Linked DNA regions of Homo sapiens: region 2 is linked to region 1. Evidence: fine-mapped expression QTL. A gene starts in region 1. The other region holds a variant in brackets. All regions are shown on one strand. Distances are between the middles of the regions.

Region 1 (15,393 bases):
CTCACGCCTGCAATCTCAGCACTTTGGGAGGCTGAGGCGGGTGGATTGCTTGAGCTCGCGAGTTCAAGATCAGCCTGGGCAACATGGTAGCACCCCCCAAAAGACAAAAAAAAAAAGCCAGGCATGGTGACATATCCCTGTGGTCTCAGCTACTTGGGAGGCTGAAGTGGGAAGACTGCTTAAACCCAGGAGGTTGAGGCAACGGTGAGCTGAGATCACAGCACTGCAATCCAGCCTTGGTGACAGAGTGAGACCCTGTCTCAAACAAACAAAACAAAAACCCACAAAACGAAAAATGAGGCCAACCCTCTCCATTATAGGTGTCTGAGGAAGATTATTAAGATAGTCCCACAAAGTGTTTAACATGATAGTTGGCACAAAGTTAGTATTTAATAAGTGTTTTCTATTATTATTTTCATTTGCTACAGCCAAAGCACTTATTTGGAAGAGCATTTCAGTGTGGCTATAAGCCTCCTGAAATTGATTATGTGCCTTGGCAGATGAGTGGTTTCTTTTTAGTGCCTGCCACATTGATGATACTCAATAAATATTTGTTGCATGAATGAAAGTGTGAACTACTGTGTCACGGGTTAGGCAGACATAGAAGTAGAACATAACAGTGTGGGTGGAGGAGTTAGCAGATCATTTGGCAGGCAATGGGGAGCTATTGAAGGTTTTTGAGCAGGGGCAGGAGAGTGTCAGATGGATTGAAGGAGGGAGGGTTTGGAAACAGGACAAGGAGTTGGCAACCTGTGGGCACCTTCCAGGTGAGAAGTCAGAGAGATCTGGTCCAGGGAGAAGGGAAGTGGGAGGGCCTTCGTTTTGTACTTGGCTGCTTCAGAGGCCTGCAAATCACCCTGGACCATGAGTGATGTGCTGGTCTGCTTACTGCAGCTACCCTCATCTGGGTCTCTTGGACTGCTACCCTAGCTCTCTCTAGCGCCTCCCTTAATTCAACTATCCCCCCCTGCCTCCAACTGGATCTGCATCCCCAGCCAGAAGAATCCTATAAAATGGTCCATCTGATTTTGTCACTCTCCTCTTGGAAACCTTCCACTGGCTTTCTGGTGCCCCGAGGATAGCTTCAATTTCCCACTGTGGCTCCAGGTGCTGCAGAATCAAGGCCGGCTGATCTCTCTGACCTGCCTCTCCCTCCTCTCCTCCTTTGTCTGGTGGCTGTCCATCTGGGCTCCGCTGATCTGACCTTTCTCTAATCTGGAACTCCCTCCCCTAAGTGAGGCCAGTCTGAACAACTTCAGGGTGGGAGATTGCCTGGGCATCTTGTTCCAGTGCAGATTTGGCTTAAGTCTGTGGTGGGGCCTAAGATGTCAATGTTTCTGCTGTGTTGGCACCACCTGGGGGCTTGCAAGGAGTGCAGATTCTCAGGCCCTGATTGGACCTCTGAATCCGAATCTGCATGTTGGCAATTTCAGCACATAAGTGTCTGGGGGTGCTGGTGGCAAGCACGTCTTAGGAGCATGTGACAGCTTCTCTGGTGGCTCCCTGGGGAGGGTAGGGGTGGTCCTCTGAGATCAGGGTTATGCCAGGCCTGGCCCAGGCACCCTGATTTCATAATTGAGTGTGACCTGTTTGAATCTCTATTCATGAACTGCTCTATACCAAGCAGTTTGGGAGTTATTTCTGTTGATCAAGAGAGAAGAAACAGACCTGGCCAGGACAGGAAGAGACAAGCTCTGAGAGGTGGGGGGTGGATTTGCTCAGTACCTGCTGCCACTGGCCCAGGTGGCATGCCCCAAAATGACCTGCCCTTGTAAGGGGGTGCCGTGGGAGATGCAGAAAAGTTCTGGCCTTTTGTGACTCACGTATCCAGAAGTCATCTTCTTACTCCTTGAGAGGGAGACAAGATGAGCTTTCCAGTCCCATGGAGAGGCCGAGGCCTGCCTTGGCTGTCTGTGGATCTTCAGAGCCCACGTTCCCATCATCATGGCAGGCCCCAAATTCCCTGCTTTTGCTTAGTTCTTGTTCTCTTGCTCTTACAGCTGTTCCTTTATCTTGGTCCTGGTATTGATCCCAGCCCTAGTTCCCTGCTTCCCCTGCAACTTTCCATCAAAGTACCCACAAATACAAGCTGGGAAGTTGTAAGGATCACTGGAAAAGCAGGCATTGCTGTACAGAACTTAAAATGGCACAGAAGACAGAAGAACATATTTCCTGTTCTGGAATGATTTCCAGACCACCCCACCTCAGGCTTGGCACCCGCTGCATGGACTGCCTAGCCTCGGCCCCTCTTGTTGCCCTCTCTCTTACTCCCTCTTTCAAGTTCCCCTCTAAGTCCCCTTTCTTAGGCAAAGGGAGTCAGCGCTCTCCATTCCTGCGCCTAAAGTTCCCAGACTCACCCCAGACTCACCGTTGCACAGCCCAAGCACATCAGGGCTCTTGGCTGCAGGAGAGGCCTTCCAGGCCATAAGCAGCACGAAGAACCAGTGGGGACCTGGCAGTTAGCACTCCTCCTTTCATAGGAGGCATCCCTTGAGTGGCACTTGTGGTTTTAAGTAGTAATTTTCCCCCTCCCTTTAGGTTATTTTCCAATAGAAGGCTGAGGCAATCTATGATCTTTATGTCATTCATTCATTTACTCACTTATCCATCCAATACATATACTGAGCAAAGTCAGTGTGCTGAGTGCAGATGCTGGGGGAACAAATACAGACAGGCTTGTTTCCAGAAGCAAGCTAATGGATTGCTCACCTCACCTGCGGGCTATGGTGACAGTGGAAATGATTTATGCCCTGGGTATTGCCCTATGCACCGAAACCTAAACTCATAAGATGTTATTGAGGGGAGCGAGTACTCTTTACCTTGCAAAAGGATTCACTGCAGGATTAAATAAAGCTGGAGAATTTTAGAATTTGAAAAGACGTCAGGGGACCTGCTCCTTCAATCCCTTCATTAGTTACTGGTGAAAAATCATATTTAAAAAGCTTAAGAGACTTGCTTAGAGTTATTCAGCAATGCCAGAGCCAGCGGGTCAGAGCCAGCACTGTTCTGTTCATTCTCAGTGCTGGTCTCTTTCCATCGGGCCCTGTATGATGTAGAGATGCTCCAGCGATGGCTGCTGCTGCTGCTAACCAGGTCAATATTTATCGAGTGCTTTCTGTGTGCCAGACACAGTTCTAAGTGCTTTTTACATGTTACAGCATTGCTCTCACGGCAATCCCATTAACAACACTGAGGCAGAGCTGAGACACAGAGAGATTAGACAACTTGTCTAAGGTCACACAGCTCAGAAGGACTGGTCTTGGGCTTCTTATCCATTTGTCTTTTGAGCCCATGCTCTGAACCACAACACTGTGGCTTTTCTTTAGAGTGAGTCCCTGACCAGCAGTCCCCATAGAGAAATGTGTTTCCACTCACATATTGAAAGGAGAGTACTTCTCTACTGAACATCGTTTCAGTGCTAATAGCTAATAGTTTAATAAAAGCAAAGCTTGGCATCATACCTTTTGGCAGATCTTTATAAAGTTGTCATACATAGAGCTGCCATTAAAGCTTGTAAAGCTTTGTGGATAAAAGCAGCATGAAAAGCAGTTCATATGATGTGTGTGACAACAAACAGAATTGTGATCCAAATTACAGGTGAAACGGGACAGTGGCCCCTGGGAGGCTAGAAATACCTGCAGAGGCTTACGGAGTGAGATGTTTGTAAATAAAGCCATTCAAACATCAATTGTGTGTGGTTTTCTTGAGAAGCAACTGTATTTAAGGGACTGCTTATACAAAATCAAGTTCTTCTTAGCAAGGATTGCTTTAAATATTCTGACTTGAATGAAGGCCAGTCATGTTCTGCCATTTTCAAAAATCTTCTAACTGGAGTCTTAGAGTTGATTTTCTTTTCATTTGTGATTAATTTTCCAGAATAACATTCCCAGCTCCCACCCCACCCAGCGTTTATAGTCCAGAGATTCTGAGAGTAGGAAGTCTTAGTAAAGCCCAGAATCTAAAACAAATAAGACCAGTCAGTTCTCTAGTTAGCTTTTTTCCTTTCAAGTTGTTAGCAATATAAACTCTGGAAAGCCTAAACTTTAATGCACCCATCTCAGCAACATCTCCTGTAACGATGGAAAGGCATAGAAAAGAAGAAAAGGGAACATTATTAATCTTGTGGGAACGCTGGAGTTTTGTCTATTATCACAAGCAGCGTGAGCCCCAAGTCATTTAAATCCTCTGGGGGTGGGAGACATAATTATTTGCAAGGGAGCATTATTAGCTAAGTACAAATGGGTTGCTATTTGTTTTTTCTGTTCTTTGTGATGATTACAGGCTGGGGATGGTGTTTAGTAACAGGATCCAGCAGGTCAGTTATGACAACTTCATCATCACTGTCATTAACCCCTTTTGTTTGCAGTGAACACAAAAAGCTGTTCAGTATCAAGAGAGTCAAGAAAAAGGGAAAGAAGAGGGGGTGGAGAAAGTGAGACAACCAAAGAGACAGCCAGGGAACAGAAATTCATACACTATGAACACCAGAAAAAAATACCCCTGGGTAATTGAGTCAGCTGACTCAAATGGTGTAGGGGCCTCAGTTAGAGGACCAAATTTTGGACTCCTTGGTCTTTCTGCCAAAAGAGTAATTGCTCATGTTTATAGATGCAAATGTTTTTGCCATTTTGGTTCCTAGAAATGCCCTAGGGAGATGTTATTTTTGGTAAGGGGTCTTCCTGCTTCAAGTGTAATGACTGTGAACAACTAGTTTCAGTATCTTCTCTAGCATGCCAGGGTAAAATGAAGCAAAATAAATAGAGGAAGTGCCATGACCTTTATTGAGGATCTACTGGGTGCCAGGCAAAATGCTTTTTTTTTTTTTTTTTTTTTTTTTGAGACAGGGTCTTGCTCTCTTGCCCAGGCTGGAGTGCAGCAGTGCAATCTTGGCTGACGGCAAGCTCTGCCTCCCGGGTTCCTGCCATTCTCCTGCCTCAGCCTCCCAGGTAGCTGGGACTACAGGCGCCCGCCACCACGCCCAGCTTATTTTGTTTTTGTATTTTTAGTAGAGATACAGTTTCATCGTGTTAGCCAGGATGGTCTCCATCTCCTGACCTTGTGATCCACCCACCTCAGCCTCCCAAAGTACTGGGATTACAGGTGTGAGCCACTGTGCCTGCCCAGTGCTGCGATCTCGACTCACTGCAGCTTTCGCTTCCTGGGTTCAAGCGATTCTTCTGCCTCAGCCTCCTGAGTAGCTGGGATTACAGGCGTGCACCACCATACCTGGCTAATTTTTGTATTTTTAATAGAGACATTATTTTTAATGTATTTTTCCTGTTGGCCAGGCTGGTCTTGAACTCCTGGCCTCAAGCGATACACCTGCCTCAGCCTCCCAAAGTGCTGGGATTACAGGTGTGAGCCCCACGCCCGACAAGGTGCATTTTTATGTGCTTTTTCTCCTCTGTCTTCTCAACAACCCTGGGGTAAAAGGCCTCATTTCCACTTTTCCTATGAGAACAATAAAGTAGAAAGAGGTAAAAGACTGCCTCTAAGATCACCCAGCACAGAGCAGGGATTTGATTTCAGGTGTGTCTTGTTCCAAACTTAATATACTGTGCTGCTGGGGGAAAACAAAGAGCAAAAGGTTCTTAACTGAAGTCAAAGACGACCAAGAAAATGTAGGCAGATGTCAGGTCTGATCATGTGGATGCTCAAATGATAAACAGACACATTGAGAGAAATTGTATTAATTAAATCATAAAAATATGTTCCGCTTTTTGGGGAATTTACTCCTCCTCCTGGGGTGACCCTTGACAAGACATTCTGTCTTCCTGTTTTTAAGCAAAAAAAAAAAAAAAAAGTGGGTAGAAGATGAAAGTTTGATATTTCGCTCATGCATAGCTTTGTCTCCTTAATATATTTTGTGCTTGCCTGTCATTTCAGCTTTCTGCTGGCAGACGAAGCTCCTTCAACTGCCATTCCTACTTCTGACACTCCTCTTGTCCTTTTCAGGACAACTTTATGCCTATTGTGCCTTGGGTCTTGAGAAGCATGTGGTAAAACTGGCCAGTGGTGATGGCAGGCATAGCAGGGAATCAGATTGAGGGGGGCTGTGGCGTGGGAGAGAAAACAAAAGAGGGAAACAGGCTATTTGATGACAGAATCAGGCTGCTTCTGCAATGACATTACATGAAATATCTGAAATTTGACCTTAACTGTATCTGGTGGGTCCCGTTAACCCTGTAAGTTATGGACAGAACGTTCACTCAAATTCTAGCAACGTCTAGGCTCATGGAAATACGTGACCAATTCAGGTGAATGAAAGGGATTTTAAAACATTAATTTCCAGCTTAGGTCTTCCTAAGACTGCCTGCGTGTCCCTTACCACCACTCCAGCCTGAGTGTCACATGGATCCTGAATGCGGACTTGTGTGCACACTGTAGAAAAATAAGCAACTGAAAACCCCAGGCATCGGGGTGGAGTGATGATGAAAGACACCGAGACCGAAGATCAGGAAGCTGGAAATTCCCCCCAGCTTCGGTGTTTGGGCTGTATCTCGCTTTTCCACTTCCCTAAATCACCCTCGTGGTGCGAGTGTGCTCGCAGCAGATGCTCCCTAATTGTCTCTTGTATTGACCGTAAAACCCTAACGACAGGAATACTCTCTCTCCTTCTATTTCTCAACACCATTTCAACACCCAAACTAAAACCTCTCACCTGAGTGTAAGGGAGTGGTGACCTTCTTAAGCGGAGAGCTCTTCCATCAGAGGGCTCCCTAAGGGCATCTCTGTTCCTAGCCGGGGAGCCGTCACCCCACTTTGTTCTGCTTAGCCTAAGACACGCAACTTTTTCCAGCTTTTACTCTTCGCTGAATTCTCACGGTGGGGTTGGGGGGATGTTCAGGCTCAGGAGCGAGGTTGGGGGCCCGGCCCGCTGGGCGCTGTTCACCGGTAGCCCGGACCAGAGCAGGAGTTTCATCATTACCTGCTGGGATAGGTGGGACACATGTATTTCCGGGGCCACCCCAGACCTCCCGGAGGATGCTGATTGACACTGTCCAGTTTGAGAACTACTGTGTCCAGGGAGCAGAGGCCTCCCCATAACCCCTTGGGTTGTGGACGTCTGGCCCAGGGCTTCTCTGGGTGAGCGGGGCGGGCATCAGAGCGCGTGGAACCTGGGGCGGGAGGTCGGGGCAGTGAAGGAGGAGGAGAAGGAGGAGGCGGAGACCGAGGGGGAGGGAGGGGAGGAGGAAGAGGAGGAGGAGTCCCTCGTGGCCACCCCGAGGGGAGGGCGACCGTAGAGACTTGGTCGGGAGGCGCCGGCCCAGCGAGGCCGCTGGGACTGTGCACTGAGGGGCGCTGACCGTTGGACGCGCGCTCCCCGCAGACCCTCGCTGAAGGAGCAGGGGGCGGCGCGCGTGCGCGGGGCGCCGGGCGGCGCGCGAGGGGGCGGAGCGGGGAGGCGTGCTGCGACCCCGGCCGGCTACAGCCTGCGGCGCGCGCAGAGCGCTAGTGGGGCGCGCGGCGCGCGCGCGGGGCGGGGGCGCGCGGAGGGGGGGGCTGCCCCGGGGCGGCCCCCCCAGGTCGGGGCGCGGCGGGCGGCGGCGGCGGGCGCGCGTCCCGTCCAGGTCCGGAGTAACCGCCGCCGCCGCCGCCAAAGCTCGCCAACATGGCGGACCTGGAGGCTGTGCTGGCCGATGTCAGTTACCTGATGGCCATGGAGAAGAGCAAGGCGACCCCGGCCGCCCGCGCCAGCAAGAGGATCGTCCTGCCGGAGCCCAGGTACCAGCTGCCCCGGCCGGCGCCGGCCCCAAGCCGCCGCCCCCTGCGGCCGCCAGCTACCCCCTGCTTCCTGGAGGGTCGGGCGCTGAGCCTCCGCTGCCCCGGGGCGGGTGACACAGCGGAGCGGGCGATGCGGGGCCGGCCTCGTCGTTCCAGTCTCTGAAATGGGGCATCGGAGGGCCGGTGGGGGGCACCCCGGGAGAGAGCGCTCCAAAGTGCCCGGCGCGGCGCCCTGCGCGCAGCGAGCGCCCCAGCCAGGGTCTGGTTATGACTTGGCTGGACCAGCTCCATCCCTGTCGCCCCCTCCCCCCAGCCCTGTCCTGTCCTGCCCTGTCCCATCCCCGTGGTTCTTCCTGTTGCATTGGTGTAGTCCCCGTTGGCTCCTTGCCTGTCACTGCTTTGCGCTCCATCCTGGTCGCTCCTTCTTCCCGGGCTCATTGGTCCCCCTTTCCAACTCCATCCTCTCACCTCCCTCTGGGCCGCTTACCTGGGGACTGCAGGCTTGTTGCTTATTGTCCGAGGTAGTTAAACTGCTGTTTTCAGTACTTGCTCTTCTTGAAGTCTATTAAGTCTAGTCACCTTCTTCGGCTTCTCTTCTATTTTGTCCCCGGGCAGGATTTTGACCCACTCAGTATTCTTTTTGGTGCCAAGTGTGTCACCTGAGCTGCTTTCCTCAACTTGTAGATCTACTGGTGGCACTTTATTAAAAAATTGAAACAGGAGTCACTTAAAAAGACACTTGAATGGGTGATTCCAGACAGGAATTTGTTGTTAAATTATCAAAGGAGGGCCCGATTGAATTGGCGAGGGGCTCGGTGAGGTGCATACCAAGTTGCAATTTTCTCTCAAATGATTTATTATTAAGGTACTAGTAAAATTTTTTCTAGTTCATATCATTAGCACTTCCCCAGAAAAAATAGTTTGTCTGGTTAATAGTGAGTTTTAAATAACGTATCAAGGCTTCAGTGATGGATTTTTTTTTCTCTAGCTCCTTTCCTAATTAACACCATCATGAGTTGTACAGCTAATGTGATTCCTTGATGCTAAATAGCTCTTGGAATTGATGCTCAAAAGAGGCATCTTGTTTATGGTGAATTTGAAACCATGCAATTCTGTAAAATATTGGAATCTAAACCAAAGTTATTGTCCATTTGAAATCATCAGTCCTTCAAGCGTTAGGCGCCCAAGATTGCTTAAATGTTACCTAATGCTAAGTGATCATCATCTGATTTTTTTTACAAGTCATCCATGAGCCCTATGATACAGAAAATACCAGTCCCCTTGTTATTTGTTGTGAAAAGCTAAATTGTGCAAATGAAGACATGCTTGCTAGGTATTTTGAGCTTGCTTTTCCTCCTTAGCCCATGCCTCTTGTTGGTTTTGCAGGATGTGCTACTCTTTGATAGACAATGCCAAGTAGTGAAAATGAGGGAAAAGTGCAAACCTTTCTGCAATGTCGTGAGTTTAACACCCCTATTCCAGAGTGTAGCATATCTGAAGCTAATTGAAAAAAATCAATGCTGCTTAAAATTTCCGGCAAATGGGAAACTTACTTAGAGAACAAGAACGCCTACATCAAACCTAAATTTCACCAAAAAAACTGTACATTTCTAATGTGGTAGAAAAAGGCTTAATTCCTCTTTTGTCTTGCCTTTCCTAGTGTCCCTCCACCACCCAAAGGCAGGGAGTCCTAAATATGTAGTATTTCTATATACAAAATTGATAAATCTCAACTCATGGGCAGTTTTTTTTTTGGGGGGGGCTAGTATATAATATTAATAAAGTTAGGAACTTCTGTTCAGTTTTTTTTTTCTTGGTGTTTGGAACTTAATGTGACTTCTGCTTTTTTAGTGTCCCTCTTAAGAACGTACTTATGCACTTAGGGTGTTCACTTCCTTGTATGAATGCCTTTGTTTTTCAGTGGTATTCTTTGGTAATGCTTTCTTTTAAGGCAGAGTAAGTGACAGCCAGCATTATTTCTCATGACATTTGAAAATTGAGAAATACCAACCAGAGAGTAATTTTAGGAAACAGCCCTTCAGTAATTGTTACTCTGTTGCTCTTTTTAAAATAGACTCTCGAATTGGGCCATTGGAACCTCCTCCTGAGATTCTAATTTGTTTTCTACTTATCTTAGTGGCTTTGGCTTTAGTTTTGTAATGTAGCTATTTACATAGTAACAGTCACTCCTTGTGCTGTGTTAGGATTCTGTTACATTGAGATTATCAGGTATAACATCTTGCAAAATTCTCTCTACCACTGGATGGCAGTTAGTGGCCTACCTATTTGATTTGGAGGTTGGGGGTTGGGGAATTTCTAGATCCTGTAAAAAAGTTAATTGCATGTTAAAATGCCCCAGCCTAATGACTTAAATAGCTGGTATGACTTCACACTATTGGTAAAAGGGATACGGGTCAAATGTTTTCTGATAAGTTTCTATTTCAGCTTCATTATAGAGGAAGCCATGTGATCACCAGTTTTTGGTATTCTTGAAAGAGATGTTCAGATTTGTATTTTTGGTATCTGAATGAGAAGCATACATTTTAATTTGCCTTTGGTCTATCACTAGTGATTTTTTTATTTCCAGCAAATTATTTGCAGTCACTATTCTTTGTGCTTCCTTATTTTAGTTACTTTGCCTTTCCCACAGTTTTAAACAGAAGAGCATCAGAACGAAATATCTAGCTAATTTAAATGAAACACTGGGTTTGCAGCTTCCTGCCTATTACAGGAGAGTCTCAGAAAATGGAACATTCTGCCCAGGGGAGATTTTGCTTCCCTGAGATGGCAAGAGGCAAATATTTTGTTATGTTGACACTTTATTCAGTTAACCAACCAATGAGTGCAAATCCTGGAAAAGCTGACTGTTTGTCCAAATGGTATAGCTGCTTTAGTTTACTGAAATGTTGTTGAGCTAATGTAGCTGATAATGGGGCCTACTGGGAGTAGTAAACTGTGACCCACAGCCTCCCTTGCAGGCCCAGTTAAAACAGGAGCATTTAGATGTGCAGGCCAGTTGTTTTACATCATGTTGGAAAAGAAATACTTTTATTTAAGTAAGGTCTAATTCACAAGCAAAGGCCCACAAAGGGTCATCATCTTAAGCCCTGGAGTGATTCAGACGACTTTTACTGTAGGCTGTATTACTCTGTTACTCTTTTTTTTTTAAAAAAAACAGAATGAAATTCAGATGACTTGAAATCACATATAGTTGAAGGCGGTTGAGTAATGTGAACTTCATCTTTCCCCTGGAGTCTTATTTCTATTTACTGGACATTTCAAATGTTGGATCACCTATTGCAAAGCTTGTCCTTTCAAAGTATTCATACAATATGATAGGAAGGTCTGAAACAACATTTTAAAGATTCTTTATAATTTTCTAGGAGCACTGACAGTCCTTAAAGGACATTTATGATACCGTTTATGACATTAATTCAGTACATAGTTGTAGAGCCATTTCTATGAGCCAGGCACGGGGTACTATGACAAACCCAGCCACAGCCCCTTCCTTCATGGAGCTTATAGACTAGTGTGAAATACAAAGATTTGAGCCAAGAAGGATGTTTGCTTTGAAGTGTATTTGCTTGAAGATTTTATTTAACCACAAACAAATAGCGTTTGGATGACTTTTATTACTCTATATGCATAGAATATAGAATAATAAAGAATGAATATAGAATATAGCATAATGCATAGAACACATGATGTTTGGTGTTTTACAATAATTTGTTAGTGATTACCTTTGAAGAACTATCTAAACATAGTCTCCATGGTGATATGGTAGTTTGCATCTTTCTGTTTGTGTAGCCACCACATGTAATTGATCTTTAAAAATGTCCCAGTTTTCTTCTTTAGTGGACATGGAGTTTATTCGGTAATTGTTTAACTCCAATCAGTAAGTGATTGGTGGATAACTTGAAATACTCCTCTCCGTTTAGGCTGTAGAGTTTTCTGTGTCTTCACTGTCCTGTGCTCATAGCCTAATTTTGAACTGAAAAGTCCACGTTGAAAGCACAAATAGCCTTTAGAAAGAAAGTATTCCTTATTATTGATAGGAGTGTTTCTATGTGTAAGAAACAGTAGTGTTCTTGCTTCTTTTTCATTAAGGTACAAATTCAAAATGTAATTTGTTCTGACCTTTCAGTTATTATCTCATTCTTGGTCCAAGTTAACTTGTGCCAGTGACTTGAAGATGCAAGGAGTGCGTGTAGATGTCAATTCTTAGAAATGGATGTTCCGGTGAAATCAGTTTTGGACCTAGAATCTGCCAAAGCTGAGCATCATGAAATGCTTCGAATCGAGAGCCTCATAGATCTCTCTGAGGTACAGGCAGTCCCAGCTTTTACACGCAATGGATTCTTAGAGACAGCCTCTTACAGTGTTTTCCCCAGTACACCGGACTTTGCCAAACATCTGTTTGGACAAGGGTGGAAACTATCCGACGAAGGTGTCAAGGCTTGAGGAAGGGAAGCACAGGTCTTTTTCAGTCAGTGGCTGGCCAGCAAAGCAGTGAAATGCAAAGTAGTATTAAATAGCTAGCAGGACGCCTGGCCTCCCTAGGGTCCCTGGAGCCCTGGCAAGGGAAAGAGAAGTTTAACGTCCATGATGTAATAATGTAATAACTGCCTTTAATTGAGAGCTCATCCTCTGTCAGGCAGTTGGCATAATTAGTTCATTTGTCCCCACAGTAGTTCTACCAGGTGAGTTGCATTAGCTCCGTTTAACAGAAGGAGCAGACACTCAGGGAAGGTAAGGAGCTCAGCCCAGGTGACACCTGACAGTGGGAGAGGCAGGAGGGACGCCCAGGTTTCGCCCAGCTCGGGGTCTTTCCCCGCCCAGGCAGGGTCTTGCTGGGCTGCCCCACCAAAAACGAATACCAAACTCCCTCGCGTCTTATTTTGCAAGGAATGGATGAAACTGCGATACTTTTTTATTTGGGGGAAAAAATCCTTTTTCGTACTCTCCCGATCAGCTACGAGTCCTCAGAGACTGATAGAGAATTCCTCTGGGACCTGCGAAAACGGTAATTATGAGTAAGTGAATAAGCAGCTTGTTCCTTATTTCCCATGAGCTTGAAGGTGAAATGCCTATTCTGTTTAACACAAGTCATGCAATCTTGCTGGTGTTAATGAGAAATTGTGTAATACACCATCTCACCCCCCAAGGCCTCAAAACAGGATTTCTACTGTCTTTTTATTTAGAAAAGGGGCCACCTAAGCTGCCCTGTCTCCTTTTTATTTAAAAAAGGGGCAGCCTGAGCTGTCCCCTCCCTTGAAATTTTCATTTCTGGGAAAAGAGTAAAAGGGAAAAACAATATTTTTGGCTTTATTTGCAATAAAAATCACTTTCTCATTCACATAATCTTCCTTTGTTAGTACAGTCACATATCTGCGGACCACTGTAGGTGAAAATGTAGGCTGTCTGCATGGCTATCATTGTCTCTTCTTATTCTCTGGACATTGGCAATGGGGAAATGGAAATGATTAATTTGGCAACTTTTACTCTATTATTGCAAAATCATTTGTATGGTAAGTAATTTGCATGCAAATGGGACTGGATATCCCGGCCCCCCTCTGCTTCTCCTGTGTCTTACTTTTTTAATCTTCCCTTCCTATTTTTATCATTGATTAGAAGTTACAACCCCTGGGCCCTTTTTGATTGCTCTATGAGCCTAAAATGCAGAATAAGTAATAATGTGGCTCTTCATATCCTGTAAATGTTTCTTCTAATTTTGGAAGCCTTCTTTTGGGTCCTCTGCTTCCACTGGAGCATACACATATTTGAATACTTTCTATGTAGGACACTATATAGAGAGCCCATGGCGAATGCAGTGAAAATATTTTTGCGACATATTTTGTAAAATATTTTGTGATAGGTAGTTGGTAAAGGTCAGCTTGATCCAGCCTTGGACCTATACTGTTGTTTGCCACCATTTCCTTCTCCTGCAGTTTCAGGAGCAGAAAAAGATGCTAATGTGAAAATAGCCAGCCCAGACCTCCATCCTTAGTGCACCAGAAAGCCACTGTCATTGCTGGGCCCCTCGTTTTCCTGTGCCATCCCTACTACCTACCAAACTGTCATAGAAGAGAAGGTTCTAAATCAGAAGCCAGACATTAAGGATCTGATTCCACTGGCAGCTTGCTATGGGACCTCTGGAAGTCACTTAAATTTGCTGTATTTAGTTTCTCCATCAGTAAAATACATTATCTATTTCTTTCTGATTGTATAATGTCCCAATAAAAATCTGCCTTGTGAGCATTTTCTGTCTATGCAATACATTTGTAAATAATAGGAAACATTAAAAATTACCCATATTGAATTTCAGACACGGATAACTCAAACAAAAAGATGAGAAGGAATATTAAAAGAAATGATTAAAAACACTTATACTATAGGGTTATTGTTGTTGAGATTATGTGTAGTATAAGATACAAGTACACCTTTAAAAAAGTACAACATAATAGCGAATATTAAGGCAGTCTTGCAAGTGCTGTGGTGCCATGTGCTCTGAGGGAGGAGGGAGTGGGTTTGGGAGGCAGGACTTCTGAAAAGCTGGATGATTGGCTGGAACAGAGAAGAGCAATTGTTGAGCCTTAGACTCATAAGTAGGTTGATTGCCCAGATTTCTCAGTTTTCCTCCTCTAGCTGCTTATTGTGGTACTGTGTGTCTAGAACCTTCTACACATGATACCTTACTCACACTTTTTTTTTTAAAATTATACTTTAAGTTCTAGGGTACATGTGCACAACATGCAGGTTTGTTGTATGTATGTATACATGTGCCATGTTGGTGTGCTGCACCCATTAACTTGTCATTTACATTAGATATTTCTCCCAATGCTATCCCTACCCCTTCCCCCCGCCCCATGATAGACCCTGGTGTATGATGTTCCCCACCCTGTGTCCAAGTGTTCTCATTGTTCAATTCCCACCTATGAGTGAGAACATGTGGTGTTTGGTTTTCTGTTCCTGTGTTAGTTTGCTCAGAATGATGGTTTCCAGCTTCATCTATGTCCCTACAAAGGACATAAACTCATCCTTTTTTATGGCTGCATAGTATTCCATGGTGTATATGTGCCAGATTTTCTTAATCCATTCTATCATTGGTGGACATTTGGGTTGGTTCCAAGTCTTTGCTATTGTAAATAGTGCCGCAATAAACATACGTGTGCATGTGTCTTTATAGCAGCATGATTTATAATGCTTTGGATATATATCCAGTAATGGGATGGCTGGGTCAAATGGTATTTCTAGTTCTAGATCTTTGAGGAATCGCCACAGTCTTCCACAATGGTTGAACTAGTTTACAGTCCCACCAACAGTGTAAAAGTGTTCTTATTTCTCCACATCCTCTCCAACACCTGTTGTTTCCTTTTTAATGATCGCCCTTCTAACTGGCGTGAGATGGTATCTCATCGCACTCACACTTTCTTGCTTGCTTGCTTTCCTCCCTTTCTTCTTTCCTTTCTGTCTTTCATCTATCCATCTATCCATCCCGTAGGCTCTGGGATGGTGGTATCAGTGCCTAAGAGTTGCAAGCCTGCTACTTAAATAGGTGTAACCAGGCAATTAGCAGAGTTGACTCATTCTTTAGAGGTTTTTGTTTCAGAAAAATGAACCAAAAATCATGATCTGAAAGCAGCTGGCTTCATTGTATTGTGCATAAGG
Region 2 (15,393 bases), 510 kb after region 1:
TAGACCTCAAGGGGAATTGTGGGCTGAGCAGCAAGAGTTATTGATGAAGGTGCAGAATTAGCACAGGCCCCAGATGAGCCTGGAGGTGAAGATGAAGCCAGTTTATTTTTTCTGTGTTGGGTAAGGCAAAAGCAGGTTTGTGGGGATAGGGTTGCTAACCTTAACCTTAATCCTAACCCCAGTTAAATTTGAATTTTAGATTTAAAAAGCCAAAAAAATAATTTTTAGCACAAGTATGCTCCGTGCCATATTTGGTTTGGATATTCGACCCCTCCAAACCTCATGTTGAAATCTGATCCCCAGTGTTGGAGGTGTTTAGGTCACAGGGGCTGATCTCTCATGAACAGATTAACAACTTCTGGGGGAGTGGGGTATGTAAGTGTGAGCTGTCGCTCGTTATTTCCTGCAAGAGCTGGTTGTTTAAAAGAGCCTAACACATCCCCCCTCTCTTTCTTTTTCCTCCTCTCTCACCATGGGATTGCTGTTCAAGCAGGATCCCCTTTATCTTCTGCCATGAGTGGAAGCAGCTTGAGGCCCTTACCAGAGGCAGATGCCAGTGCCATGCTTTTTGTACAGCCTGCAGAGCCAGGAGCCAAATAAATCTCTTTCCTTTATAAATTACCCAGCCTTAGGTATTGCTTTATGGCAACACAAACAGACTAAGACACTTATACTAAAATATTATTCATTGCTTGTCTGAAATTCAAATTTATCTGGACATCTTATTTTTATTTGCTAAATCTGGCAACCCTAGCTGGGGCTTGGTGGAAATTTAACGTAGGGGCTGAAGACCTGTGGCCTGCAGGTGGGAATGTTTTAGTTTGACCAGCACAGCGCTTAAAAATAAGAACATTTCACATAAAATTCAGACTTCCACCTTCCCTTGATATCTAGTCACACTTCCCCCTTTTTGCTAGCAGTTCATTCCCATCTCCACCCCTACTGGCCCACATGGCCAGTAAATAAAGAGATGCATAAAAATAAATGCTCATTTATTGTTACCTGCTAGGCCTATGAATCATTTGAGTTTTAGACCCATTGGCTTGCCTCGGGGTACACAGGGAGAGACCCTGGTTTACTCACGGCAATGACAAACCCTCCAGATCAAGAGTCATTGTGTGGAGACCCCGTTTCATCATGTTGTAGCTCTAGTCTCCCTCTAGGTGGTTCTTTACTTTCCCATCTGTAAAAATGGAGATAGATTTTGCCCTCCCTCATTCTGGAATGGATGAAGAGGAATGCAGATAAGAGCATAAAAGTTCTCTGATAAAGTGATCTTGATAATGGCTTTCTCCAGATGTCCATTCATGAGGCTTCCACCCTGTAGTCAGCATAATCTATCCAAAATATGCATCTTTCCATGCTTGCTTGCAAAATAAAATCCAAACTCCCTCAAGTGGCATGCAAGTTTCAGTGGTTTGGCTTACCCCATCTCATCTCCAAAACTGTCTACCCCAACTGCTTCCAGGCAGCACCTCAGATGCTGAATTTCTCAGTTGCTCAAACTCATTCTGCACCCTCACACTCCTGGGCCTTTGGGTATGATACTCTCTGCACATAGAATATGCTCCCTGCCCATCTTAGTGATTGCAATTTCAGTGCCATCCCTTCCCATTTTACATTTTGTTAGGATATAGCTGTCCCTGATACATATCCCACAATACTCTTCTTCTCCAGCAAAGACATTTCTCCTGCAGGTTCCAGCTAGGGTCTAAATGTCAAAAAACAACTTTAGCTCATTTGAATCAGAACAAGGAGTTATTGGAAGAAACCACCAGGCTTCTGAAAGGGCATGGACCAGTCAAGCTTTAGGGACCATAAAAGCAGGAGTTGGCAAATGGTCTCTCTACGACATTGCCATGGGTGACACAGTCTCAACTACTTTCTGTCCCTTGGTGGCCAATAGAATGTCATTGGCCAGGCTTGGCTTATATGCAAGTGTCCATGGTCATCTGCGATTGACAGTCTTAGCAGAGAATTTCTTGGGTGGATGGTGGTGCAGTTCTCCAAAGAGAAGGAGGGGATACTGTTATCCCAGAAACAGGGAAAGGGCACAGGTAGAAAAAACCAACAGGTTTCCTGTCCTGCACAGTCTTATATTGTCACTGCTTTGGTTTTTTTCTTTGTTCTTCCAAAGATTGCCCATTTCTTGAGTTCAGAACTTTCTGTTCTCTACATCTAGCCTTGTGGTCCCAGAAACTGAATAGAAGCTTCAAAAAGATTTGTAGAATGAGCAAAAGTGTTCCGAAAGGGAGTCTTTGCAGAAAAGAATTAAAACAGCAAGGCTGAGGATGTAATCTTTTAAAGGCCTGTTTGCAAGTTGCTCCTTAGCTGGCATCTGGGAACTTGGCTTTTAAAATGTCTCCTCCATTCCCTAACTGATAAGGTTGATTCTTTGTGCCTTGACTGTTTATAGAAACAATGTAATTTATGGTGAACACCTGCTTTCTTTCTGAGAGTCTGGAATTTTGGTTGTTGCTAGACAGAAAAATCGATATGAGCAGCCCCTAAAAACCACTCTAAACTCTAAATCTCAAACTGGCTACACTGGGCATTATAAATATTACAAATGAATTCCTGCATTATTGCTACTGGAAACAGTGTTCTGTGTGATCTTCCATAGGAGGAACAGAACATAGGAAGCCTGCACATGGCTTCCAGACCCTTATCTGTGTCTTTTCCTTTACTGGGTTGATTGTGAATCCTTATAGTGTTGCCTTAGCCATGAGTACAACTGCATGCTAAGTCCTGTGAGTGCTTCTAGTAAATCAGTGGATGGTCTTGAGAACCACACCCCCCGCCAACCCAAGCAGGACCAAATCTTTAAAGCACAGTCTACGATTTCCAAGGCACTTTACAATATTATTGCATTGATCTTCTTAACCACCCCCCCTCCATTGAGAGACATCCTGTTCTCATTTTAGGGATTAGAACACTAAGGCTCAGAGAGGTGAAGTGGTTTAGTCAAGGATGCAAAGCTGGTAAATGGAAGGATGGGTTATGAACCTAGGCTGTCCCATTTCAATGTCACACTATGGTAGCTTCCATTATAGAGAGGAGAGACTGTCCCTGTCATGATAACCCTTTAGTGTCCAAGACAACTTCGCTCTGTGAGCTTAGAAATCTGGAGTGTTCTTTTAGGAACAGTCAGTGGAATGAGTCAGTGACTTCTTTTTTGTCAGTAGCAGAGCTGATATTGGCACCTATGCCCATTATTTGACTCTGGGGCCCCTAAGTTCAAAAACATTACACTATTTTGACCATGTGACCTCTGATATCTTACTCATTTTCTCCAAGCATTCATCACTTCATTTGTAAAAAGGAATTAAGAACTATCTAATTGATTATGAAAAGAACACAACCCTCCCCTATGAAGCACCTAGTAGTGAGCCACCAAATGTTGGTTCCCTTCTCTTTCACTCCACCCCTTATTCACTGTGTGGGCCTGTGTGAGTCCTACCATTACCTCCATCTGTTTCCCCATCTGTAAAATGAGGGGGATGATTTTGACGCTCCCAGAGTCCTTCTGGGGCTGGCATCGTATATCAAAGAACAAGCGTTTTTCTGGTGAAGTCTTTTAAAATCCTGCCAGCTCTGATCATGAGAGGCAGATCAAACCCACCTTCTGCCCACTTAAGAAAAAGGCTGTGTGTAAGTTGCACAAAGGTGGTGAGGCAAAAACATGCTCCAGCCTTTCCCAGACACTGATCCAGAGAAAGACATGTCAGAGTGTTGAAAAGTTCTTTGTTTAACTAAGGCACAGGCAGAGGGAAAAGGAACAGTAGAGAATTTATAGATGGGGCTGTATCTTCTATATCCAGGGTTATCAATCTAAATCATTATAGAGTTCAGTGGATAATTTTTATAGAGCTTTGCGGAGAACAGTACAAAGACCAGGTCAATAGGGAGTGGTGGGGACTGTGGAAAACTACAGGACCTATGCTAGCCTTGGAGAGAGCATCCCAGCTCCAACTGATTGCTGCCAAGTGGGAATGCAAGCATGGTGTTGCCAGACTATCTCTTTCTCTCTTCATGTTTAAGAAGTCAGAGTTTTGAAGTACGCTATCTCAATTTGTAAGTGTTGCCTTGAGTTTTCTTCTCAAAGATCTTTGTGGGTCCAATATAACTCTTTGCATTTCCAATCTTGCCTATAGGCTATTTGTTTGCAATCTCAGAGCTACCAGGGCTTATTTGCAGCATCTTTGTCATTGAATCCTGAAGAATTTGTGACCAGAGGTTACCTTCACATCCTCCAAGATGGCCAGCTTCAGACATGGGAGAATGATTTTCTGGAAGAGCCAGCATCATTTAACTTTAAGCTATTCTTAAAGTTTACTGCTGTAAAGCTTACCTCTTTAGCAACTCCTCCTTGCCCCAGGACAAAGTTCTGACTTATTATTTCCTGGCGTGGATTTTACCTTTGATTACCCCTATATCTTTGTTCAGGTGCATCTCTCATCAATATAAAATCTTATGGGAAACCTCCTAGTTGGCCTTCAAAATGCAGCTCTCATGTTTATTCCTCTGTGAAACTTTTACTAATCATCACCCTCCTCTCCTGAGGTTTAGCTTCCTGCCTCACCTCTGTGTATCAACCACACCACTCTCTATGTTCATATCATGCATTAGTCAGGGTCCCAATTGAGAACAAATGCCACACTCAAACTAGACACCATAAGGAGACTTTAATTAAGAGACTGTTTACAATGGAGTGTGCATTACAATGGGCAGGGTTAAAGGAAACTGACAAAGCATAGTACAGCACCTGGGACCAGCAATACTGGAGAGCTGTTACTACCTCTAGTCCTGAAGCTGCAAAGGGAGGAAGAGCAATTATAACATTCACAGAGGCTAGAAGTATAGACAAGATTCCCTGGCAGGAGCCTTGAAAAAGGGACACACCCACACTGTAGTGACCTGTCAAGGAGGGAGCCAAGAGAATAAAATCTCAACCTCACTTCTCTCTGACTCTCCAGTATCTTGCTGCTGCCTTTCATTGGCTGGAAACAACAGGCAGCAAAAAGACAAGGAAGTCTGCTGACATGGTCCATATGGATCAGGGTCTGGAGGCCAGAGCAGGGTGGAAAAGGGTAAAAAGGCAAACAAAAGAAGCCCAATATCCACCATTCTCTGCATAGGTCTCTGTTATGGCACTTGCTGTTTAGTGCCAGGTCCCCTAGAGGCTGGGAAATGCTGGTGAACAGAGAATTAGTTTGTTTATATCTGCACCCTCAAAATCTGGCATATAGTATGTGATCGATAAATGGTTATAAGAATTACCAGGTACATCATACAGCACCTGGTAAAATAGAAAGATTAGGGATTCTTTTTAGATTATCCACAGGCATGAAGCAATCATGAACTTCTTCCTTTCATGCAATATTTTATCAGCACCACTGTGTGAGGTATTATTCCTGCCATCCAGGAGCTCTTTATCTCAAACTAGAAACTCCTAGAGCAAGGAAAGCAGTTATGCATCCTCTATTTCACATTTCCCCAGTGTGGATACTGTAGGTCACTGGTTTGATGTGATGCTCAGAGATGTCACATCAGAGTCCATTGTCAAGTGTAAAGTCTGTAGATTAAGCAAATGTCTTCTCTACAGAACTTGTCAGAGCCTTTAATGTGCCAAAGCATCATACGAAGCACCTAAAGGGGGCCACAGTAAGCAGCCTTTCCTAAATTTATTTTGTCATAAAATTATTTCCCCCCGAGCATCTTGTAAATCAGTAAGTTGGAATATGCTTTGGAAAATACTGCCCTTCTTTAACCAGTTCATTTTACAGATGAGAAAACTAAAGCTCCAAAGTAGTTATCACCAATCAATCTGGCAGGGAGCACAATTTGCATACAGAACCAAATGTCGAAGTTGCTTTCATTGAGTAGCCACTCATTGCCTTTGATTCTTTCTCCAAACTATTATCAATTCTTTCTCAATGGATACCTCTCCCAAACCTTGACTAGGAATGAACAGGAAGTAGCCAATGGCTCTTTTCCTGCTAAACCCTCATGGGCCCCTGTGTGACAGGTGTGACCCATTGTGAGATGTTGTCACCATGATGACACAGAAGCTTGTTGGGTCATATATGGAGAGAAGATGACACTGAGTGTGGGTGGGATGATGGTAGTTGAGTACTGCTCTCCTCTGTGGTGACAATTCACTTCGTCTCCTGAAAAAGTCCCATGCCATCAGCACTGGGCAGGGAAATTCCACTCTCAACAGGGTAGCCAGAATGATTGTTTGAAACAAGAAGTCTGATGATAGCTCTCCAATGCTGAAAACTCTAGCAACTCCTTGTTGCCCCAGGACAAAGTTCTGGTTTATTATTTCCTAGTATAAATTTTACCTTTGATTTTTCTTTGAGATGGGGTCTCCCTCTGTTGCCCAGGCTGGAGCGCAGTGGCACAATCTCGGCTCCCTGCAGCCTTGACCTCCCCAGGCTCAAGTGATCCTCCCACCTCAGCTTCCTGAGTAACTGGAACTACAGGCATGCGCCACCATGCCCAGCTAATTTTTTGTATTCTTTGTAGAGACAGCATTGCACCATATTGCCCAGACTGGTCTCAAACTCCTGGGCTCAAACAGTCCATCCACTTTGGCTTCCCAAAGTGCTAGGATTGCAGGCATGAGCATAAATTTTACCTTTCTCTTTGGCCTCATCTGGTGCCACCAACTGCTTCTTTGACCCTCTCCACCCACCCTACACACTACCTTCTAGGCAATATACACAGCATCCAGCTCCTCAGACTCACCACCCTGTAGATCATGTGCAGACCTTTGCATGAACTGTTCTCTCCAGCTAGCGCTCCCTCTTGCCATTCTATTTGTCTGACCAGCCTCCATACTAAGAGGCAGTGTGGTGGCTGATTAGTCCATGGGCTCTGAAGCCTAAGAGTCTAAGTTCAAACTCCAACTTTGCCACTTCTTAGCTGTGCAGCCTTGGGCAAATGACTTAACCTGTGTGGGCCTCAGTTTCCTCATCTCTAAGATGAGGATAATGATAATACTACCTGCCTCAAAAAATGTTTTAAAAAGTTAAATGAGATAATTCTTTACCCATCATATAGTAAGTGCTCACAAAAATGATAATTTTAATTCTATTTCTTTATGGTTTAGTTTAGATACCCAGCCTCTGGGAAAGCTTCTCTGACTCCTCTTAAAATATACATACATGCACATGCAAGCACATACATGAACACATATGCACACACACCTGCACTTACACATACATGCATTCACACATGCACACACACACACACACACAGCCCTCCCCACATCTCCCCCAAGGCATCTGTGCTTCCTCCAACCCTGCTGCCAATATTATTCTAACTTACTTTTCTATATCTCTGCTTCCTTAGACATCAGCTCTAGGCACGTAGGAACTACATTGCATCTCCAGCACCCAGATCAGTACTGGACTCACAGTAGGGGCATTTGACCCATCCTGGACAATTCTTCTTACTTACTTTTGTGTTAGGACAGAAAAAGCCAGTGTCAGAGTAGACAACTGAGTCCCAGCCTCAGGAAAAGGAAAGGATGTGCGCAAAGTCACATAGCTGGTTCACGGCAAAGCCGCAATTGAGCCAAAACTCTCAAGTGTCGTTTGGTATATCCTCAGTTCCTGCTGAGGCTATACAAAGAGACCCCAGTTTCCAGTACTGCTGATGCCTCGAGATTTGCATGCTCTGTCTAATTTGTGAAGGAGGTAAAGAAGAGCCTACTTCGCTTTTTTTTTTTTCTCAATTCCCTAAGCAGGCATCCTATTTCTCGAAAGAAAATGGATTCTAGTTACTTTTCAGTATAGCACCAATGGTCTTCTTGTTGAATTACAGCCACTGATGACTTCCTTTAAAGAGCGAGTACCCAGTTCAGGAAAATGTATTACTCAGGTAAAATGACTCCCTGGGGTGATGAGGGTGTGATTCAGGAGAGCCCTCCCACTTAGATGTCCTCAAATGAAATGCGGAGTGCATGTCTCTGTTTCAGCTTTGAACTGTGTCTTTCAGGCATCCTGGGTTTGAACTGGGTCGCCAACATCCTCCCTGGGAGCAGCTGCAGGGGTTTCTGAAAGGATGACCTCTTTTTAGCACAGAGATTATTCAAGGTGCTTAGAAACAGTGGGATGAGTTCAGAAATCAGTTCTTGCTACTTCTTTACCTAGGGAAACCAAGGCTGGGAGATGGAAAGCAATTGGTATGGGGTTGCTAAGCAGAACAACAACAGAGCCAACTGTCATCTGCCCACCTTTCCACAGCACCTGGAGACTGTCATGGCTATTTCTGTATATCCACTGGTAGACAAAGCAGTTAGATTGCAATAGATTTGGGATAATCACACAAAAAATGACAGAGCGCTCACTTAGTGGTTAAGCTCCTTCATGACACCCTTCATGGCTCACAACACAAAAATTAGAATACAGAAGATAAATATGTTAGCTAAGGTTTCTTGACCACTGACTAGATACCAAGAGCTCTCCTAAATGTTTTATATTCATGTCCTCATTTACTACTCCCAATGGCCCATTGAGGTGGCCAGCACCCTTTTACAGATGGGGAAACTGGGGATGGCAGAGGTTACAAGATTTGCCCAAGGTCACATTGCTGAGATGTGACAGAGTCAAGACATAACCCTGCTTTTCTAATGCAGAGCTTGTGCTCTACACTATTTGGTTATCCTGTCCCTTGTTCCACAAATATTTAGCGAGGACCAGTCTGTACAAGAAGCTGTTTTGGGTGCTAAAAAGTCAAGGATGAATGAGATACAGACCCCACCTTCAAGAAGCACATTGTCATTTGGGAAAGAAATACATATAAACAGATAATTGCTAAGTTATCTGTGATCAGAGCTAAACAAGGGAACTATACACTTTTGGGTTTACTTTTTCAAAGTGCTTATATCATTCAATCTATGATTACATGTGGACACACACATACGTACACACACACACACACACACACACACACTCCACCAAAGAAACCAAGGTAGGTATTATCTGCATTTGACAGATACAGATGCTGAAGCCCAGAAAAGATAGAGAACTGGCTCAGGTAACAGACAAAATTGGTATCATGCCCAAGTCTCCAGCTTCTAGCTTGGGTTCTTTCTCCACCAGACCACCAGGAGCATCCAAACAGCCTCCTGGTGGCCAGAACCAGTCCAAATGCTGAACATTAATAAGAGATGCTACAGAGAGAGACTGCTCCATTTATATTGTTCATCTGTGAATCCTCCTTAGTTTCACTGAGAAGGACATCAAAGAAGAGAATTCTGGATTCAGTAGAGGTTGAGTTAAGTCATTGGAAGACCTTGTTGGGGTCCTTTGATCTTAGTCTAAGACAT[T/A]TAGAACAAGGGCTTGTTTGGGCTTATTTGAAGGGATTCACTCTTCTTGGTCTTCATGTTTTGGCCCTGAAATCCATCAGATGGAATTTTTGGATTTGTAATCTTAATGGTCTAACCCATGAGTTTGCCAACATGTTTTGTAATTTTCACCCTTTCCTTCATATCTTCCTCCCAGCCCCATCCTCCCTCAAGCATATGCCTGTTTCCTGAATAATGAAGGATACCTTATACTCTGCAGCTTTAATCTTACCGCTATTTCTTGAGAAAATGAGTTTTGGCCTTTATTAACTGCTCAGTAACTGGGCACATATTTCCCACTGTGATCAGAACAAAAAACTAGCCTTGAAGATAAACAAGAAGAGTGTAGACTGGGGGGATGTCTTGCGGAATTATAAAGTGAGTAAGGAGGCATTCAGACTCCCCCTGAAGATGCTATTTAATTTGTGGTAAGGCTGATAGTGGTTATGCTAGAATGAACATTAGGGGAATGTTGCTCTGTGACTTAAGTGCTTAACTCTTTAAGAATGCCCATCACTGTCCAAGGTACTGACCGAGATATTGCAGAGTTCAAATTGTTGATAATTTCCAAGGCCTTTCACATTCCAGGTAGGGCATAGAACAATGTCCTGGCCTGAGAGTGGGTGTAAGTGTTCATGGCTGAAAACGCAGAAGAAGATATGAATTGAGATTGCAAGCCTGTTATTGATTCCGGTGACATTGGGCAACTCTCTCAACCTCTCAAAACTCTGTTCTGTCTATGAAGGAAAATGTGCTACCCACTCCACAGGGATAGTCAAAAGATGCAATATCATTAAATATATTTCAAAGCCTGGTTTTGTGCCCTAAAAATGTGATGATGATGATGATGATGATGATGATTATGACGACGATGATGACAGCATAAAACTTTCAATAATATTGAGGGTTGTGTGCCTGCCAAAGTTCTAATGGCTTCACAAGTATGAATTCACTTAGTTGTCATAAAATTTCTTTATATTATTTGGAGATATTATTATGCTCATTTTATAGATAAGGTACCCACAACACAGAGAGATTAAATCATTTTCCCAGACTCACCCAGTTAATGGAGTACATCCCAAACACATTGTGTATAGTTATTATCGTGAAAAAAATAAAAGATCATAAACACATATTTTGAATTCCCGCCTGGAGCCTCAGCACTGCCCAGAATGGGATCCTAGACTTTCATTCTCTCCAAAGGGGAGCTCCATGACTATTTCCCAAGACTAATCTCCATGTCAGACATGAGATTGTTCTGAAACAGTTGCCCTATCCTGTCACCTTCACAACTTGAAACCCTCAATGACAATCATCCTCATAAGACCATGTTCAAACACCTTAGCCTGGCATCCAGGACTACTCAACATAGGACTTTTCTCTTTAGATGCTTCCTTCTCTCCTCAGTTGACATTCAAGGCACCCCAAATTTCTCCCCACTCTCTGAACATGCCATGACTTTCCTACTGCACGGTCTTGATGTTGTTTCCTCATCAGGAATGCCCTCCCTTGCCTAACAGTATAACTCCTATTCAGCCTCAGGAAGTCTTCTTTGATTTTTTGCTTCCTCCCTTGTGCTTCTAGATCCTAACACTTTAACTATTGTTAGGAATGTCTGTCCTTTTTCCCTCAGAATTTCCCACTCAGAGAAATTCTAAGGCCAGGCATACCTTATTTATCTCTCTATCCAGAAAACTTAACTCAGGGATTGTCATTTACATGTATGTATGTTTACAAACATATGTACATTTGTTTATATGAAAGGATGAATGTGGCTCTTCCCAGAAGGAAAAGAAGGGAGGTGTTAGAGACTTTTCTTTATGAAAAAGATTAAAAATAGCACCATAGTTTCAGATTTAAAAGGCTGTGCTTAGCAGTTGATATCTCAGCACAGAACAACAGAAAGCTCTAGAGCTTGAAAGCTGGTAGTTTCAAGTTGAACGTCTTTCTCTGCATATGCCAGCTGTGACCTGGGAAAGCCTCTTCCCATCTCTCAGCCTCAGTTTCCTGGTCCGTAAAACCAAGACGATCATATTCTACTTGGTGGGATCTCTGCAGAGAGCAAATGGGAAATTGGAATCAACTCATGTTTCTAACAATAGAAGAATAGATATAATGGAATATTATGCAGCTGTAAAAAATGAACAAACTACAGGCACACACATCAGAGGAGAATGGGTATAATGGAACATTATGCAGCTGTAAAAAGTGAATAAACTACAGCTACACACATTAATGGGGATGAATCTCAGAAACTTAATATTCATTCAAAGAGATAAATCCCATAAAAATCCAAAATATATAAGTCCATGTATATAAAGTTCAAGAACAATCAAAACTAATGCTATATTGAGAGACAGGAGAGCATAGCCATTATGGACTCTGGGGCCAAAAGTGGGTTCATGACTGAGTATTCCCTTTTTCTAGCTCAGTGACCCTAATGAGTTACCTAACCTCTCTGTACCTCAGTTTCTTCATTTAAAGAATGTCGAAGATAGCAGTGGTTCCTACCTCAAAGAGTTGTTGTGAGGATTAAATGAATTAATATATGTAAAATACTTAAAAGAGTACCTGGCACAGAACAAACACTATGTAAATGTTAGCCCTTATTATTATTTTTGACTAGTTGTTGTTATTACCTTTGTGATTACTATCATGATTTAGGAACATATACAAGATGGTTAAACTGTATGAAAAACAAGGGAATGATTAAAACAAAATTCAGGGTAGTGATATGTTTTAGAAGCTTCTAAATTATTAATAATGTTCTGTTTCATGAGCCAAATAGTGGGTGCACAGATATTTATGTTACTATTATTCCTTAACTGTATATATAGATTTTCACTACTTTTTTAGGTATGATATATTTCCCAGTAAAATTTCCTAAAGATTAAATGAAATTAATTATTGAAAAGGACCAACATCATTCTTTCCCCCCCTCCTGGCTAGAATCTCCCCTTTTCTGCAGGCCTTTGGATGATGTATTTTCCTTCACAAAAAGAGCCTCAACCTTCTGGAGGGGAACTGATCTGTTCAGCAGGCTCCCCCATTCATCATCCCCCAAGAAGCGTGTTTTACATTCATCTGCAGATGAAGATAAAAGGGTGGTGTGTTGCCCTCTTTAAGATTGCTAGCAGGATAAGCGTGAAGAGGAAGGCTTTCATATTTTACCCTAGGCTTTCCAGCAGTTGCCTTCCCCAGAATTGAAGAAGCTTGGCTTGCTTCTCAAGTGCTTGTTGAGAAGCAAAATGCCCAGGGAAGAATAGAAGATTCTGAACTCCAGAACTGCAGCATCTCTAGGCTAGATTTTATCACCGATGACATCGCATTTTACTGGAGCAGCTTGATGTTCTAGAGATTTGCCCAGCATGCTTGGTGGCTGTTATTTCACTATGGCTTTTGAGCTCAAAGGCTTTAGAAAAATAATAATGGTAAGAATTTATTAAGCATTTTCTATGTACCAGACTCTGGGCCAAGCATTTTTTATGCATGGTTTTCTGTAATTCTCAAACAGCCTTATAAAGCACTCACAGTTATCTCCATTTTATTGCTATACAAACAAAAGGACAGACAGGTGAAGATATTTACCCAAGGTCACACAATGAGTGGGAGACAGAGCCAGGATTTGAATAAAAATTCTTCTTTACACTCATAATTTCATTTGAATCATCCAGCATTCTGGCAGAGGGGAACTATTCCCATCCATATTTAACAAATGAGTAAACTGAGTCCCCATGAGATGAAGTCACTGGCTAAGGAGACACAGCTAGGAGGTGCTAGGACTCCATGTGAGTCCCATCTGAAAGGCTGGAACACTCCTCACCTTGCCTTCCTTTTCCATTAGCAAGAAAGAATTTCCTATGAACACACACTCAAATCACACTACACTCAAAACAGTGCATGAGGAAAGATCATTACCTTGCATGTAGAGTTTGGGCAGAATTGCCTTGAAAGTCCCAGACCAGAAGAAGAATGGCATCAGCACCAGAGTGGGCAGAGAAGACATTAGAGGATGTGAAGTGGGGTCTGCAAAGGCCATGAGCAGGCACAGGACACTGGTCCAGAAGTGAGAAAATACACAAGAATTTCTGGGGAAAAAAATCATTTGGCAGGGACATGGCTAAGAGGTAGAGGTAATAGAGTAGAAGAAGTAAGCACAGGTCATGAGGGGCTATTTGCAAAATGTCCTTGAGTAGATATGATTCCTTAGTATCCAAATGCTGGGTACTGTAAGGCTGTAGTGGGTCCCATTTGCCCTCCACTCCCATCTTCCCATCCATCCATCCATCCATCTGTTTATTCATCTATCCACTCAGAATGTGAGCTCCTTATGAACAGAAACCTTACTCATTGTGGTTGCCACTGTATCCCTAGTAACTGGAAGAGAGCCCAGCACAAGATAGGCATTGAAGAACTAATTGTCAGATGAATAAATTAACTCTTCTATTGAGCAAATATGTGCTAAGTACCCACCAGCCATCTCAAGAGGAGAGCATGGTGCATCTTTTTGGGGCTTGTATTCCAGTGGGAAGAGACAGATGACAAAGATAATAGATTGATAAATATACATCATGTCATATAATTGACACAAAAGTGGGACTTTGTGTAGTTTTCTCTAAAAGAAAATCCTGAGTGGAAGGTTCAAGGGGAGGTCATTTATTTAGGAGGTTATCCAAGAAAGCATCATTAGGGAGTGGGAAATTGAGACAAGAAAGAGAAGAAAGCCAGTCAAGGACATGATATTGAGTGGGTTTTCCTGTGGGCAGCTGAAATTCAATTCTGCTGGAGACCCTTGCAGAGACTTCAAAAAACATACTTTATATTTTCCCACCAACTGGGCATGGGAGCTGGAATAATTTCCACGAGCTCTTGCCTCTCCTGGCAGGATATATATGTATGTAGGGGCATGGGTATATTTTACATGATGTGTTCAGAAAAAAGTCTCTCTGATAAGGTAAGACTTAAGAAGAGATAACAGAAAGTGAGAGTAAGCTGTGCAAATATTCAGGGGAAGCACATTCTAGGAGGTGGGAAGTGCAAGCACAAAGGCCCCGGGGCAGGACTGTGGCTGGTATGTTCAAAGAATTGTAAAGAGACCAGGTGCTGGTTGAAATGAGCAAGGAAGATAGAGATAGTGGAGGATAGATCATGCAGGGTCTTTGCAGCTCATGGTAAGAATTACAGCTCTGTCTCCAAGTCAGATGGGAAATTATTGGAGAAATTCGAGTGGAGAAGTGACATAAAATGTTTCATTTTTGAATGATCCTGTTGGCTGCTATGTGGAGAACGAATGCTAGGGACAGAGATGGAGGCAGGAAGAACCAAGGGGAAGCCACTACAATAATCCAGATTTGACATGATGGCAGTTTAGACCAGAATAATAACAATGAAAGTTTTAGCAAGTCATCAGAGTCTGGCTGATTTGAGAAGTCTGGATTTCCTGATGGAGTATATGTACAGAGTGAGAAAAAGGAAGCAGCGAAATGAACTCCAAGTAGCTGGAAGGATAGGGTTGTCATTCATGAGACATGGGAGGTGCAGGTGTGCAGGGGGCTGGACACCTTAGGCTGGATGCCTAGTAGACATCTCCAGGTGGAAGATGATGAGCAGGACTATATAGGTTGGAGCTCGAGGGAGAGACTGAGGCTGGAGATATACATATTTTATATGGGAGTTTTTGGGGTAGAGCTTGTAGTTAGTGCTAGGAGACTGGATGAGACCCAGTCTGCATGAATGAGTGTACACAGGGAAGAGTCCAGAGTCCTGAGATTCTGTGTAGAGTGTGTAGAATTCAGCCAATGAGGGGGAGCCAGGGAAGGAGATGGGAAGGGAACAGCCACATAGGGAGGAGGGAAGCCAGTAGCATGCTTATGCTAAGTGGCTTCACTTGAAGCCAAGTGAAGAAAACATTTCTAGATGAAGCAAACAATCAGTTGTAACAAATACTGTTGATTTAGGTAAGATGAGCCTAAGAATGGCCCACTGGATGTGGAAAAATGAAGATTATCAGTGATCCCGACAGCACAGGTCTCAGG

Which allele goes with the higher level. Positions count from the first base shown, and alleles are read on the strand shown. Sizes are in standard deviations (SD) of each study's normalised expression.
With allele T in place of A in region 2, the expression in breast of the gene that starts at base 7,247 in region 1 is higher (moderate effect, 0.68 SD a copy in GTEx).

What was found.
Region 2: its variant is fine-mapped to the expression of GRK3 in breast (GTEx, PIP 0.98).

Annotation. Positions count from the first base shown.
Region 1 is chr22:25,557,429-25,572,821 of GRCh38, forward strand. GRK3 (G protein-coupled receptor kinase 3) reads left to right here and starts at 7,247. Exons shown (of 21, transcript NM_005160.4): 1 at 7,247-7,725. The coding sequence starts at 7,613. GRK3-AS1 (GRK3 antisense RNA 1) reads right to left here and starts at 7,988. Exons shown (of 4, transcript NR_183564.1): 1 at 7,652-7,988; 2 at 6,662-6,931; 3 at 5,875-6,053; 4 at 3,460-4,070. RefSeq lists silencers at 7,173-7,272, 7,583-7,832 and enhancers at 7,944-8,459, 9,742-9,921.
Region 2 is chr22:26,069,324-26,084,716 of GRCh38, forward strand. No RefSeq gene overlaps it. Among named protein-coding and RNA genes, the nearest start is that of LINC02559, 75 kb to the right of the region's middle. The variant T/A (reference allele first, on the strand shown) is at 9,341.